2 separate regions of the Homo sapiens genome follow, and region 1 is linked to region 2. Evidence: fine-mapped expression QTL. Tissue or cell type: whole blood. Region 2 holds a variant in brackets; the other region holds the start of a gene. All regions are shown on one strand. Distances are from middle to middle.

Region 1 (8,104 bases), 170 kb before region 2:
TTTCTAGTGGCATCTAGTGAGAAGAGTCCAGATGCGGTGCTGAACATCCTACAATAAACACGACAACCCCCACAGTAAAGAATTAATCTGTCCACACGTCAATAGTGCCAAGACTGAAAAACTGTGGTCTGCAATAATTTGTGAATATAAATTATAAAAGAGCTCGAGTATACATAAACATTTGTAAATACAAACCGGTAACCAAAAATAAAATTCATGAAGCCATTATAAAATAAACTCTATATTTGCCTAAGTAACTTCTATATTAGAATAACAAGTTTCAAGGTACAGTGGGTGAATCTAAAGTTTAGGACTAATACAGTCAATCTACTTTCACAAGACTATTCTATAGACTAAAAATGCCAAGTACTCTAAGAAGTCATTAATGTTTCACAAGAAAACAGTAACTTTTTCTACCTACACGCTCTTAATTTCAGGCAGTATTCTCTAATGAAAGCATGAGAATACTTACCGAAAGGGAGCAAGAAAGATTAAGACACACACACACTACCAATTATAACCCAATTATATAATATTCCTTGTCAATTCAGTATCATGCTTTAATTTTTGCCCTTCAAGAAAATTTATCTGCAGAATTAGTTATAAACAGAGTTCATCCAAAAGCTCACTCTTTGCTGTAAAATGACCACTGACCCAACATACCAAAGATATGTAAAATTTTACGGACAACAAAAATGCATTTAAATCCCAAATGCGTAAGTTGCTCTTTATCTTTTCAGTTTCTAAACAAATAGATTGAATTTAAGCATTGTTCATGTCTCATCTTTCCCCTACATAATCACAATTCATATCACAGAAAAATGTTCTTATAACTTACAATTCTGTCTGACCCATAGATCTTCTCCAACTGTTCAGCAACATCCCTTGTTCCATCTGGGCTTCCATCATCTATGATTATAATTTCATAGTTGATTCCACTAAAAAAATTAAATTTGTATTAATGACTGATGACAGTGTTCTCAAATTTAAAAGTAATTTAAAAATTACTAATTCCTTAAAAGTATAAATGGAGATGTATTGCTATATTAATCGTTGAGGAAAACTTCAATTATCAAATGAAATAAATGTCAAACATTTAGTACTTTACCTCCAAACCCAGTATGTTGCTGAAACATGCTAATGTCCTGAGATATTAAAGAATTCCTACACAGAGAACAAACTTTTTAGTTCAAAAGAAAATCACGTAATGACCTATGTATCATATGAATTTTTTTTGTTTTGAGATGGAGTCTTGCTCTGTTGCCAGGCTGGAATGCAGTGGCGCAGTCTCGGCTTACCTCTGCCTCCTGGCCTCAAGCAATTCTCCTGCCTCAGCCTCCGGAGTAGCTGGGACTACAGGCGCCCACCACCACGCCCGGCTAATTTTTTGTATTTTTAGTAGAGACGGGGTTTCACCGTGTTAGCCAGCCTGGTCTCAATCTCCTGACCTCGTGATCTGCCCGCCTCAGCCTCCCAAAATGCTGGGATTACAGGCATGAGCCTCCGTGCCCAGCCATATGAAATTTTATTACCTATTTGGAAATAATATTCTGAACCTTAATAGCAAATCTTAGTTACATAAAATATTTCAAAAGTACTTTACATGGTAACTCAAACCAAACTGAGTAACTCAGTGATTATTCTTGTTAATCTGATCCAAATAGAATAATCAAGTATAAATCTGATTTAATTTCATCTTTAAAAAAACCGATTTTAGAATGGTGACATTATCTTAAACCACAATTTCAAATAGTTGTGCCTATTACCTCACATTATCAAATTAAAAAAACAAAAGCAGAGTAGCATTACAAAAGATTCCACTGTGCTTCAGAATTAACATCTGTTACTTCCCATTAATCTCAGGTGGTAGTTTCTAGTCTAAAAACAAACCAACACAATACTTGGTGGATAAATAATACCTACGACATAACATTCCGTTTTCTCTTGGTCCTGCTTTAAGAAACAAATACAAGAGGCTGGGCGCGGTGGCTCACACCTGTAATCCCAGCACTTTGGGAGGCCGAGGCAGGCGGATCACGAGGTCAGGATATCGAGACCATCCTGGCTAACACAGTGAAACCCCGTCTCTACTAAAAAGAACCCGGGAGGCGGGGCCTGCAGTGAGCCAAGATGGCGCCACCGCACTCCAGCCTGGGCAACAGAGCAAGACTCCGTCTCCAAAAGAAAAAAAAAAAAAAGAAAAAGAAAAAAGAAACAAATACAAGAAAATCAACCAGAAAACATATTCCACTGTTAAAGGCTTTAACAAGTCAGCCCCAGCAAACTTTGAAGACAAGAAAGCAAACCCCTGTGTTATCTATTCTCCAAGAGTAGAACAATGACTTTGGCTTCCCACTGTGCCTTAAATCTGGGCACTGGTGCCTTTACATGCCAAAATATGTAAGGTGATTTTAATAGACGTGCTGAAAGAGAAATTCCATAAACAAAATGGGGTCGTTAAAAGCAAATTACTGTCCCCTACCACTTCAAAGCAGCTACACCACCTGAGGGTGAGGCAGCTCAAAGGTACCAAGCTGGGCTGACTTCAAGTAATTTGATTGCATCTGAAAAGTTTTGTTTCCTTTATCAAACTTCATTTTGATCTTAAAAGATTGATTCACAAACCATTAAAAGGAAACATAAATTGTACTACATAAAAAAATTAAAACAGCAAAAAAAAAAATTGCAAAATTAGAATACAAGCCCTGAACGAGATCGGTTGTATGATAGTTACTTTCTTTAATTTAGAGCTTATAGAAATCAAAATTAAAAGATTAAACAGGAAAAATAAAAATTTTAAAACTCTGAGGGGCAAGGCATATGAAGGCAGTTATTCAAGGAAATACAATCAAAACAGCAATGGTTTTCACAAATGAGTACTTCCAACAATGTTAAGTCTAATGCTCAGGCGGGCTGGTTGATAGGGAAACAGGCACTCTGAAGAATGGAGAGTCCAAACTTGTACAACCTTTTTTTTCTTTAGAGCAATTTGGCAGTAACTGTCCATTTTAAGCACATTTCTGTCGACCCAGCAATCCTACCTCGAAGAATTTATCCCTAGTACACAAGTAAAAGTATGAACGCGTCTGCTGCCAACACTGATGCAATAAAGGAGCACCGCTATGTGTCAAGCACTTTTCTAAATTTAGCTGGAAAATATGGTGTGAACAAAGTCCTTGTTCTCATCGACAAAGCAAAAGCCAAAAAACAGAAACAACCAAAAGGCGCTGGAAATAATCCAGTTCATTGCCATGACCTGATTAAATAAATAACACAGCCATATGGAATGTTACCTAACTTCCAAAGTAATTTGCTATGTTTGTACATGTTAATATGAGAAAAAGTCTTCAAAGATTTCACAGCATGATCCCATTTGTGCAATCGTAAAACAAGTTACTTCGTACTGACTCCAGGATTTTTTGCAGTTTTTAAAAACACTGCATTAACACTTCCAAATTCGAACTCCACCCACCCCCCATCCCGGTTCTAACAATCACACCAAACATCCACCAGTGATCAGCGAAGATGCTCTTCTGCTTTCTCCTTTCCAGAAAGGTTATCGTGCCCAGCAATAGCTCCCTAACCCACACACACCAAACCTCATGCTTATGTAAGCACTCGGCACCGGAGCGGAGAGTGAGAGCTCTCGCTTGGACTCCCGGCTCTTGCCGCAGATCCTGACCGCCTAGAGGGAGGAGTGGGATCACGCTTTCAGCCTCGCTTCCAAGTAAAAGAGTGGCCAACCTTTCTACGGAAAGGCGGGGGACGGGAGTACTACATAATAAAGATAAATGAGAGTCTCACAAAACCCAAGGGCAGGAATGAGAACCCAGGACACGAAGAAAACCCAACAAGCATCCGCCTCTGCTTCCCTCGCAGGGTGGCCCTCTCCCCGGGCCTTCCTGTGTGAGGCAAAGAAGGCTGGACAGGGCCGCTTCGCGCAGCCAGCTGCCGACACCCGGGCCGGGGAAGCCAGCTCATCTCATTCTTCGGGGAGGGAGACCTGGTGCGCTACCTCTCGGAGAAGCTTTTCACCAGCAGCCACACGATGAGCGGCAGGTTCTCGCGCTCGTTGTAGGTAGGTAAAAGCACCGAATATTTGTTCTGTCGTGGACTGCGCACTTCCAGCTCCCGCCGAGACCTGCGAGGACTACGACTGACTTCCAAGGAGGCCATGGCGGAACTGAGCCAGATGCCGGAAGCGGAATTACGTAATGTGGCGCGGAAAAGGACGGGTCGGACCGTACCAAATTCGGAAGCGGGGGATGACCTGTGTGATTGATCGCTAGTTCTTCTAGGGCCATTGCGTGGTTCAATTAGAAATATTCTGGATTTATACATCTTTGAAGTTTAATCTGAAGGTTTCTTCAGGAAGTAAATATCTATTCATCACCTTTTCCCAAGCTCCATAAAGTTTTTTAGTTTATCCCAGTCGCTAGGAGACAGAAGACGGAAGCGGAAATGCCTTTCACGACAACTTCCGGAAGAGGTCGCCATGGCTTCCCGGGAGGAGGTACTCGCCTTACAAGCTGAAGTTGCCCAACGTGAGGAGGAATTGAATTCGCTGAAGCAGAAGCTGGCGTCGGCTCTTTTGGCTGAGCAGGAACCGCAGCCAGAACGGCTGGTTCCGGTGTCGCCGCTGCCGCCGAAGGCCGCTCTGTCCCGAGATGAGATTCTGCGCTATAGCCGGCAGCTAGTGCTGCCCGAGCTGGGCGTGCACGGACAGCTGCGCCTGGGGACCGCGTGCGTGCTAATCGTGGGCTGCGGTGGGCTCGGCTGTCCACTAGCGCAGTACTTGGCAGCGGCCGGCGTGGGCCGCCTTGGCCTTGTGGACTATGACGTGGTAGAGATGAGCAACCTGGCCCGCCAAGTGCTGCATGGCGAGGCACTGGCTGGCCAGGCCAAGGCCTTTTCGGCCGCCGCCTCGCTGCGCCGCCTCAATTCGGCAGTGGAATGCGTGCCGTACACTCAGGCCCTTACGCCAGCCACTGCCCTAGACCTGGTCCGCCGATATGATGTGGTGGCTGACTGCTCGGACAACGTGCCCACTCGCTACCTGGTTAATGACGCATGTGTGCTGGCGGGTCGGCCCCTCGTGTCTGCCAGTGCCTTGCGCTTCGAGGGCCAAATCACAGTCTACCATTATGACGGTGGCCCTTGCTATCGCTGCATATTCCCCCAACCACCCCCAGCGGAGACAGTGACCAACTGCGCGGACGGCGGGGTGCTCGGTGTCGTTACCGGGGTCCTGGGCTGCCTGCAGGCCTTGGAAGTGCTGAAAATCGCTGCGGGTCTGGGCCCCTCTTACAGTGGCAGCTTGTTGCTCTTTGATGCCCTGAGAGGGCATTTCCGCTCTATTCGGCTGCGGAGCCGCAGGCTCGACTGTGCAGCTTGCGGGGAACGGCCCACTGTGACTGATCTGCTGGACTATGAAGCCTTCTGTGGCTCCTCAGCCACTGATAAATGCCGCTCCCTGCAACTACTGAGCCCAGAGGAGCGTGTTTCTGTCACCGACTATAAGCGACTGCTGGATTCTGGGGCATTCCACCTGTTGCTGGACGTCAGGCCTCAGGTGGAGGTGGACATTTGTCGTTTGCCTCATGCCCTACACATCCCTCTGAAACATTTGGAACGCAGGGATGCGGAGAGCCTGAAACTCTTAAAAGAAGCAATCTGGGAAGAGAAGCAGGGCACACAAGAAGGGGCTGCTGTCCCCATTTATGTGATTTGCAAACTGGGAAATGACTCACAGAAAGCCGTGAAGATCCTCCAGTCCTTATCAGCAGCTCAAGAGTTAGACCCTTTAACAGTTCGGGATGTTGTGGGGGGCCTCATGGCCTGGGCTGCCAAAATCGATGGAACATTTCCACAGTACTGAGGTGACTGGTATAGTCTGATGAGAAAGATGTGGATTGCCATAATACCTCAAAGATACACTTGTTTGCATTTTTCGGTAATATACATAGGAGCTGGGGATTCTACAGTATCTGTGAATACGTGGACTCCTTTTTATAAGGAGTTTTAAAAATTGTTATGTATTGGATGAATGACTTATTAATGGATTATACCGTTTCTGAGAACCATCATTTTTTTTTTCAGCACACGGAGGATGTCTTGGACATGTGAGATGTAACGTGACAGGATTTTGCATTTTAAACTGCAGATCATTTACATGTCCTTATTTTCCACCTCCCCCAGTCAAAATGCTTTCTAAATCATTTTCACAGATTATATACTTCGGATCTGTTTACTGTTCAGTTAAGAAATTCTTGGATCTTATTAATATTTCAGATGATAGAATACATCCTACAGAAATACATGTTTAAAATGTAAATTGTTTTAATTATTCAGAAAGAGGGTCATTCTATTTGGCCTTTTGAATTAGTATCAAAATGAGATTTTTTTTTTTTTTTTGAGATGGAATCTCTCTCTGTTGCCCAGGCTGGAGTGTAGTGGTGCGATCTCAGCTCACTGCAACCTCCGCCTCCCAGGTTCAAGCGATTCTCCTGCCTCAGCCTCCTGAGTAGCTGGGATTACAGGCGCACGCCACCACGCCTGGCTAATTTTTGTATTTTTAGTACAGAGGGGGTTTCACCATGTTTGTCAGGCTGGTCTCGAACTCCTGACCTCGTGATCCGCCTGCCTCGACTTCCCAGAGTGCTGGGATTACAGGCGTGAGCCACCACACCCTCCCGAGATCTTTAAAGTTTACCAAAATAAAGGAAACCACCTTTGTAGTCTGTCAGTGTCTCTTATAAATTGCTACTGTTTTCTTAAAGTTAACTTCAGGGTCCACCTTATGTTGCACACATATCACATCGTTTAAATTGCATACTATGGTTTGACTTGCTTTGGAATTTTCAAGTCAAAGTCCCAACCCTTTGCCTCTCCCCCTTTAATTTGCCTTTTCTCTTTTGATTTAATGTTTTTTTATTCCAGCATTTTATACTAATGTAAAATGTTTTTATGTTTGTTTACTTAACATTTTCATAAAATAGTAGGTAGTCTCACCAACTTCCAATATATACAACAACATTATAAGTAAAAATTTGATTTGTGAGTGCCTATCAGTGGCCAGATGAACTAATGGCTTGTCAGAAGGGGGCCTGTGACCTCCTGCTTGCTGCATGCAGGCTTATAATCATCAATTGCTGCTGTTGTTTTTTTAAGAATGGCAGAAATCACAGATACAACTATAAAATCTTTGTATTTCTGTTAACCATTTTTTTTAAAGCTTAAATGTATCATAAGCCAGCAAAAACCCTTTGTAGACCAGATTTACTTACCAGTTTGCAATTTGTGATATAGAATCTTGTTTTATTATAAGAGGGTGGTATTTAACAAATTCAAAATTAGTCATCACTTTTTAACTGTGAAACATTGTAACTAATTCTTTGAACAGGTATACTTAAAGTATGGTATACCCTTCTGTTATAAAGATGAAGCAGGTCTCTTATGACTGTTCCTGCCAACGAGTTATGGAGGTAAATGACTGTGACCTGGAGTGGAGAACAAAGATGGCTGGCCTGTGTTTTTCATCTCCTTCTTCCAGGGACAACTGATTCTGATACATAGCAGGAAACAAATAGCGACACACAGGAACAATTTCATATTCTAAAGACTGAAGTCCTAAAGTTATAGACAGTTGTAGTTCCTATAAACCTGGTTGTCACAGGGGACAGGCAAGAGAAGCTGACTAGCTAAGTGTTAAAAGGTTTACTAAAGTGATAGGAGGTGCTTTTGAGAATTTTGGGGACAGATTCAAGGCTGTACTTCTAGGAATGATGCCCGAAATCATGCACAAAACTGGCCTTAGGAGAACAGTGTCTATGTTGTGCTGCCCTATCAAGTACCGGAGGAAACGCCACTACAGTCTCACCAGTTTCACTTGACGTGCCCCCCCAACTCTCCCAGAAAGCCCAACACTTCAGCCACAGTCCATGTGTCGAGAAACAGAGTCACTACATTATTCTTTTCTGAGTCAAGCCTTATGAGGGTGCCTGGTAGGCAGAGTCTAATTACATGCCTACATCTTAGCTGCAAGAGAGGCTGGGAATTTGTGTTTTGATATCTACAATAGGAAGACAGAACTCATGATGTGGGA
Region 2 (8,104 bases):
CGTTCTCTTCCTGAGTCCTGGGCTCACAGAACATGTAGCCCTCATAGGCTCAGGGGTTGATTCTGGAGGACTCTGCATCTCTTTGCAGAAATGCAAAATTGAAATGTCAGCCTGGACATCTTCCCAGGGAAGTCCAGGTCTTTGCAAGGGATGGGATACCTGTTGGACAAATTTCTAGCTAATTGATTTTCTTAAGTCTAGCCTTGCTTCCTAGAAGTTTAAAATCGAGTAGGGAGGCATCCTGAGGGGGCATGTGCTGTTTGGTTTTAATATTGCTGACAAATAGTGTCATCCTAAACCCCCAGAGTCCTCTGCCTCCACCCAGGCTGTTCACCTGGGATCCCTTGGACCTCACTGATATCCAGCAACTAAAGGGTTAATGCCTAGCCCAGCAGGGGATGCTGCCCAAAGCTGGAGTCACAGTTTGTTCTGATTTAGTCAATACTGGCCTCTCCCTCATGACACCGATGGTTAAATATTCAGAACATTACTCCAGAGGCAATGTATACAGTCATGAAACAAGCCACAGTAAAAAATGCTGCAGAATGTCTGTCATAAGGGCTAGAGCAAGTGGCAATGACCCCCCCACCACCCCATCTGATGGGCAGCAAGCTGCTTCTCTGGAAGATGTCCATCCTCTTTCTCAGGCCACCTCCACACTGAGCCAGTCCTCTTCCCGTCTCACCTGGATTCTTCCCTTAGCCTCCTCTCTGGCCTCCCTGCCTCTACCCTCACCCCTGAGCCAATCCATCCTCCATACAGCAGCCAGAAAAACAAGTTTGGTCACACCAACCCTCTGCTTAAAACCACCCCATGGTTTTCTGTGCTCACGGTCAGGCTAAAGCTCCCAGTTCCCTTTAGAGCAATCTCTGCAATGTGCAGTTATACATTTGTTTGTTTTGTTTATTTTTGGTCTCCATCCCGGAATGGCAGGCCCAACAAAGACTCTCTAGTGTTTATATCCAGTGTCTAGCGCAGTGTCTGGCACACAGTAGGTGCTCAATAGATGTTTGCTTAGTCAGAGAAAGAATAAATGAATGGATGACTGAGCACTCACCGTGAGGTCTGCAAGAGCCCAGAAGGAGCGGGATGTTTCCTCGGCAGGTTATAATTTGCAGAGGCAGAGAAGAGATTGCCATTCAAGGCAAAGGAACGGTCAGGGCAAAGGCTGGGAGGTGGTGTGTAGGTGGCTTCATCTGCCCTACAGGGCTCTGTCAGCAAGAAGACAATACAGGGAAGGGACTGAGAGCGTGGGGTTCTGAGTCAAAGGCCCTGGGTTCAAGTCCTGGCTCCACTATTATTAGCTGATGACCTTGGGAATGAGGTCACCTTTGTTTGACTCAGTTTTCTCATCTTACAAATGAGACGATGATGATCTCTACCTTATAGAACTGTTTTGAGGACTAAATGAGATAACATAAGTCTGGGTGAAAAAAAAAGGCTCAATAAATGTCAGTGAGTGTGTTTGATTCTGGGAAAGAAATAACACTTGCCAAGTATTTTCTGTGCAGGGCATGTACTGAGCCGCTCATTTAATCCTTTTAGCAACCCGGTGAGGTTTACTTTCGTATTTCAGTTTGACAGATGAATGTGACATTCTCCCCTGTCATGGGTATCCCAGCACCTGGTTTATTGTGGTTGATTCAGTGCGGTGATGTTTAACCCTTGCCTGGGCATTAGAATTACTTGGGGAGTTGCTGTAAAATACCCACACTTCCCACCACCGGCCAGCCAAATAAATCAGAATTTTTGGGGAAAGGCCCAGGTATCAGTATTTTTTAAAACTCCCTAGATGATCCTAATAGACCAGCCAAATGGTCTAAGTTTGGATGTGAAAGACTGTGTGGTTGTCACAGTGAGCCCCAGGACTGGGGCTAGGACTTGAGGATGGGGGCTGTGAGGCACTTCTTACTCTGACTACTGACAGCAAAGCCAGACAAGTCACTTCATAGAGGAGACTCGGAAATCTGTTACCACCCAGTGTGGGCATGCCTGGAGTGTGGCTTTCAAGTGCTCAGCAATATTGCTTGGTGGAGTCTTCAAATCACAAGCATCCCTCACTTTTATGGGGCTGTCTGCTCCAGGCATCCAATTTGTATTAGCGAAAGCTCCCTCTCCTTCATAGGAGGGTGTAACAAAAGGGAACCCAAGACATATAGATATTTTCTCTGTGCTTGTCTGGGGGCTGACTGTTCCCAGATCTTATTGAAAGAGGCCAGGCATGGTGGCTTACGTCTGTAATCCCAGCACTTTGGGAGGCTGAGGCAGGCGGATCACCTGAAGTTGGGAGTTCGAGACCAGCCTGGCCAACATGGAGAAACCTCATCTCTACAAAAAATACAAAATTAGCTGGGCATGGTGGTGCATGTCTGTAATCCCAGCTACTTGGGAGGCTGAGGTAGCAGAATCACTTGAACTTGGGAGGTGGAAGTTGCAGTGAGTCGAGATCATGCCATTGCACTGCAGCCTGGACAACAAGAGTGAAACTCTGTCTTAAATAAATAAATAAATAAATAAATAAATAAATAAATAAATAGCTAGCTAGCTTTGGGGCCTGAACCTGACTTCTCCTAAAACTGTTGGTCTGCTATGTTACTTTCAACCCCTTCCTATAGCAATTTGTGAAATAAGTCATTTCTCTAATTAAAAAACCAACCAACTAACCAACAGGATGCCTAGTTAAATTAGAAATGTAGCTACACAATGAATAACATTGCATGATACAGTAAAAAAAAAAAATTACTTATTGTGTACCTGAAATTCAAATTTACCTGAGTGTTCTGCAGTTTATCTGGCAACCCTACCTGGGTCTCACTTTCTGGGGCTACTTCAGAGTTAATAGCATGGACATTAACACCACAGACATCCTCCTTGGAACCCAGCTCTGTCCCTTAAGTGGTAACTGAGCTGCAGGCAAGACATTTAACTTTTGAATGGTAAATGCTTCTTTTCCCATAAGCAAATACAGATAATAATAGTACCTGTTTCTTGTGGTTATTGTAACTGTAAAATAGAATCATCTATCTAAAGTACATACTAAGTGCTCGATAAATGGTAACTGTTATTATATTTACTGTATCAGGAAACAATATCAGCAATGTATTTTTGGTTTATAATGATAAGAATTATAAATTCCTTTTATTCTGTCTATAAGAAGAATGTATGTATATTATGGAAAATTAGAAAATGCAGATAGATACGAGAAAGAAAGAAAATCTACTCACATTTTTAACGTTTGCTGATTACTCTTCCAGTATTTTTCCTTAAAAATATATCTGTATCTGGCCAGGCATGGTGGCTCATGCCTGTAATTCCAGCACTTTGACAGGCAGAGGCAGGCAGATCACCTGAGGTCAGGAGTTTGATACCAGCCTGATCAACATGGAGGAACCCCATCTCTACTAAAAATACAAAATTGGCTGGGCGTTGTGGCACATGGCTGTAATCCCAGCTACTCAGGAGGCTCAGGCAGGAGAATCGCTTGAACCTGGGAGGCAGAGGTTGTGGTGAGCCAAGATCGCGCCATTGCACTCTAGCCTGGGCAACAAGAGTGAAACTCCGTCTCAAAAAAAAAAAAACAATCTATATCTATAT[C/G]TATGTATCTATCTATCTCTGTACAGAATAGTTTTGTGCTGTGGGTCCTGCTTTTTTTTTTTTTCACTTAACATTATATGACATTTGAACTTTGAACAACATGGGTTTGAAGTGCGCGGGTCCACTTATAGAAGGAGTTTTTTCAGTACAAGTGACACCCAGCGTGCCTGCCTTGCCTGCTTTCCCTTCCACCTCCTCCCCATCTTCTGCCTCTGCCACCCCCAAGACAGCAAGACCAACCTCTCCCTTTTCTCCTCCTTGTCAGCCTGTTCGACATGAAAAGAGGATAAAGATCTTTATAGTGATCCACTTCCCTTTGATGAATAGTAAATATATTTTCTCTTCCTCATGATTTTCTTAATAACAGTTTCTTTTCTCTAACTTACTTTATTGTAAGAATATAGCATATAACACACACAACATACAAAAATATGTATTACTCGGCTATTAGTAAGGTGTTAGTCAGTATTAGGCTATTAGTTAATGTTTTGGGGAAGTCCAGAGTTCTGTGAAAATTTTTGACTGCGTGGGGATCAGTGTCTCTGACTCCTGCATGGTTCAAGTGTCAACTGAATAAGTATTTCTCTAAGTTGTTAGATATTCTTTGAAAATCTAATTTTCACTGTAGAGATATAGACAAATGTATTTAGCCAATCTTATGCTGATCATCCAAGTTTTTGTTGCTATTATAAATAGTACTGCAATGAGCTCTTTATCTTTTATTAAACATTGCGCTAGAGCTCAGTCGGCCCCTCTGAAGCCTGTCTCAAAGCATGGTCTTCTGGTTTGTGTTTCTGGCTGCCTGGCCGCTGCTTTTGCCAGAGTGCCTTGCCAAAACCCAAGACAAATGGATTTCAGCCTTGATGGGTAGGCCCAGGGCTGCTCAGAGGCCCATTTTGTCACTCTCTGTCTTTTGGAAGTGGAGCTGGCTCTCTGCTGAAATGTACAAACACAGAATCCTTTTTGATCAAGGGGAGATCCTTTTCTAGCCTTGGGACTCAGTCCGTTCTGTTCCTGGCTGCATGCGTGCCATCTCCGTTGATTGTCGTTGTCTTTCTTGTTTCATGGAACTGGAAAAACAAAACCAAACCAAAAACCTTCCAAGGTTCTGAAGTCCTCATATCCTTAAAAATCCATCAGAAAGCCCCGAAGCTTCCGCTGCTGAGTTTGCCTTTTCCAGCCTTGCCTGATCTCACTTGGGAACATGACTACCCAATAACTCAGTTGCAGCAATGGTGGGAGAACAGAGCCACCAAATACAAGCAACGTCCTGGAGAGAAGGGCGCTTACAGGCAGAGGCGAGGCACACTGAAGCAATCAGTCCTGCTGTACAGGTTTTCTTAATGTTTTGACATTTTAAGTTCAGAGAACATAGCTTGGTTTTATAAAATAGTTTCAGTCCAGAGGACAGAGGGCACAAAAGTCTCCAAACAAGTTCTTCTGGGTGGAAGACACTATGAGTGGCTCTTTACCTGCTTTGCCATCATTTTTGCCCCAGAACCTTATGGAATATATTAAGTCACTGCATGGGTCCACTTATACAAGGATATTTTTCAACACAAGTTACACTCAGTGTGCCTGCCTCACCTGCCTTCCTTCCACCTCCTCTGCCTCTGCCACTGCTCAGACAGCAGGACCAACCCTTCCCTTTTCTCCTCCTAGTCAGCCTGTTCAACATGAAGAGAGGGTGAAGATCTTTTTAACGATCCACTTCCATTTGATGAATAGTAAATATATTTTCTCTTCCTTGCAATTTTCTTAAGTTTCTTCCCTAGCTTTTCTTCCTGCCATTACTTTTGCACCAACCTAATATCCAGTGCAGATTTGAGGCAATGAATTGATTTAATTGCAGGGCTCATTTGAGCCCCTAGCATGTCTTTGTGTATGCACAATTATTTTTTCTAAACTGGTTGAGTTTGAAAATGTAATAACTTTGCCCAGACCCACACAGCCATTTTCTTCCCAGAGAATCAATGTAATTTGCATGTGTTATTCGGCCACAGGACAATAGAGCAGTGCAGCTCTTGTTGATTTTGAAGAGCTGCTGATCGCCTTGTTTGAGAAGTCAGGGCCCAGGAAGGCAGCCAGGATGATGCAGGGCTTGTCAATTTCCAGGTGAATTCAGCAGGCAAGTGGGAGCGGCAGGTGCTGGTCAGCTTGGGTTTCAACCTCATCCTTCATACGTGCCAGCTTTGAGACTTTGGCAAGTTACTTCAGCTTTCTGTGCCTTATTTTCCTCATCTGTAAAATGGGATAATAAACGACTCTACCTCATAGAATTCTTTTGACTCATAAATGAATTATTACGCGTTAAGCACTCCAAATACTGCCTAGTTCATTGTTAGTATTATTTATTAAGCTCCAAGTGGTATTTGGACTTCTTAAATGAGAATCACCAAAAGCAGGGCTTCTCAAACTTTAATGTGCACATAAAACACCTAGAGATCTCCTTTAAGTACACATTCCGATTTAATAGGTTGAAGGGCAGGCCTGGGAGTTTGCATTGGCAGGTGCAGCGACTATCGGAGGTGATAGCCAAGATGCTGTTTGAAGACCATGCTTTGAGGTTCAAGGACTTTGAGAACTTAGGGTAAAATTGCAGATTCCCAGGCCCAAGCCCAGACTGTCGGTTTCAGGACCTCTAAGGGTTGGTCCCAGGATCCAAGTGTTTAACGAGCCTCCTAGGTGATTCAAACACACTGAAGCTTGACAGGCTAGAATGAGTTAATTTTAGTGTAAGGAAGATGTGGCTTGTTCATAACCTTTGTGGGAGAGAATGTGTCACTCTGTGTTTAGGACTTAGGTTTCTTCTTCTCTCCTTTCATTTTCCTTCTTCTCTTTCTTCATTCCTCCCAGGCCAGGCAGCACAGCTCAGTGGTTAGAGCATCTCCTCTGGATTTGCCTCGCGATCTCACCATTAGCAGTGATACCTTTATGGAAGCATGTGCTATGAGAGGACTGTGAAAGGGAACCCAAGGGTTGATTTGGGAAGCTGGCAGTCATCGGCCAAATCCTGACCATCTTGGGCTGACTGCTGCAGAGGGTGCAGGTCAGAGTGTATCATCATATATGTTCTGGCCACTGGCTTTGGACAGTAGTATATGTGGGTGTTTGTTCTCCTCTGGATGATAAACAGCTCAACAACAGTGCCCTTTTTTGCTCTTCTTGGGCCTTCCCCAGCGCAAGACTTGACATCTGAGCTCATCAGTGCTTCCTGAATGAGTGAATAAAAGACGTGCTGCAGCCACTGAGTCATGCACCACTGAGCTATTGCAAGCTGAAAGGAACTCAGCGGTTCATAAACACTGGCTTTGACCACCTTAGCTCAATTCAAGTCAGCAAATATTAGTGATCATGTATCTTGCATCAGGGCCCATACCCGAAGCCACAGAAAGTCCTGGGGGCAGCCAGATCCAATAATTATAATTTCTCTGTAAGTTTTCCTATGCCTCGCTTATATTTGAAGCATGATTACAATGGAATCCAACTGGCCATACAATCAGTATTTGTAAAATAAAAACGAAATCAGCTCTACATGCTGTCATTTCCAAGATGATGTTAATGGAGGTACTCTTGTTTTACCTTCACAACCACATTAGGAGGTAGGTATTCTTATTGTCCACATTTTACTGATGAGCAAACTGAGGCTCTGAGAAGATAACTCATCTGGCACCTGGCAGTGGGGAACTTGAACCGGGGTCTGGAACTCCGCCTGTTCCATAGGCTGGTGGTAGGGCATAGGAAGCGGGTCGTGGATGGACTTGGGCAAGAAGAATAGAGGTGCAGTTCCCCTGAGAAAGGGGGAGGGATGCTGGTCATCGGGACACAGCTGAGGTTGCCACGCCACATCCCCTCCTCCAGGCATGCACAGCATTGTGGGAGGGGGCTGGCCTGTCACACCCTCAACACTGAGACCCATCAATGAGAAGAATTTCCTGAGTTTATAAAACAGCAACAGGTTAGGCAGCATCATGAGTGAATTGATCACCAAGCTGAATCTTACTTAACTCCTAGCTTTAAAATAATCGGCAGGAAGGAGAACAAAAAGCCACACGTGTGTTTACACACAGGCACCCCGCCCTGCAGGCCCCAAGGAGAGGTTCAAATCAAGGCAGCCTTTCCTGTGGGCGTGGGTGAGGTGCCCCGCACAGGAGCCAGCTTTGCACTTAGTGCAGACTAGACAGCCATGTAGTTTAGCAGGGGCAGCATTGACAGAAACCAGAGAGCTGTAAATGCCACACTGGGGTGGCTGGGCCACATGTGCTATTAACCAGACAGTCTTGTTCCATGTCTGGAGTCTGAGCACATTTTAGGCCCTGGTGGCTGGGCAGCACCCTGTGGGGACCGTTAACCACTTAGCTGAGACCCGTTGAGCAGATGCCTCTGAAATCTATGCTGGTTTGAACCCCCCCTGGGGTATTTTGTGCTCTTAGGGACACCATAGTAATTGATGTAATATGCCTAAGATGGACTGAAACTGTCTGATATTGGAATAAATTTAGCCTCACTG

Which allele goes with the higher level. Positions count from the first base shown, and alleles are read on the strand shown. Sizes are in standard deviations (SD) of each study's normalised expression.
In carriers of allele G in region 2, the expression in whole blood of the gene that starts at base 4,185 in region 1 tends to be lower than with C alone (large effect, 0.83 SD a copy in Lepik 2017).

Evidence for each region. PIP is the estimated chance that this variant, and not a neighbour inherited with it, causes the effect.
Region 1: DPM1 starts here. The variant in region 2 is fine-mapped to the expression of DPM1 in whole blood (Lepik 2017, PIP 0.95).

Annotation. Positions count from the first base shown.
Region 1 is chr20:50,954,348-50,962,451 of GRCh38, forward strand. It overlaps DPM1 (dolichyl-phosphate mannosyltransferase subunit 1, catalytic), which reads right to left and starts at 4,185. Exons shown (of 9, transcript NM_003859.3): 1 at 4,016-4,185; 2 at 839-938. The coding sequence starts at 4,176. MOCS3 (molybdenum cofactor synthesis 3) reads left to right here and starts at 4,471. Exons shown (of 1, transcript NM_014484.5): 1 at 4,471-8,104. The coding sequence starts at 4,496. The coding sequence ends at 5,878. RefSeq lists enhancers at 3,942-4,431, 4,644-5,254.
Region 2 is chr20:51,121,569-51,129,672 of GRCh38, forward strand. All of the region lies in intron 1 of LOC105372661 (a long non-coding RNA gene), which reads left to right. LOC105372662 (a long non-coding RNA gene) reads right to left here and starts at 3,308. Exons shown (of 3, transcript XR_001754668.2): 1 at 3,225-3,308; 2 at 1,058-1,211. The variant C/G (reference allele first, on the strand shown) is at 3,595.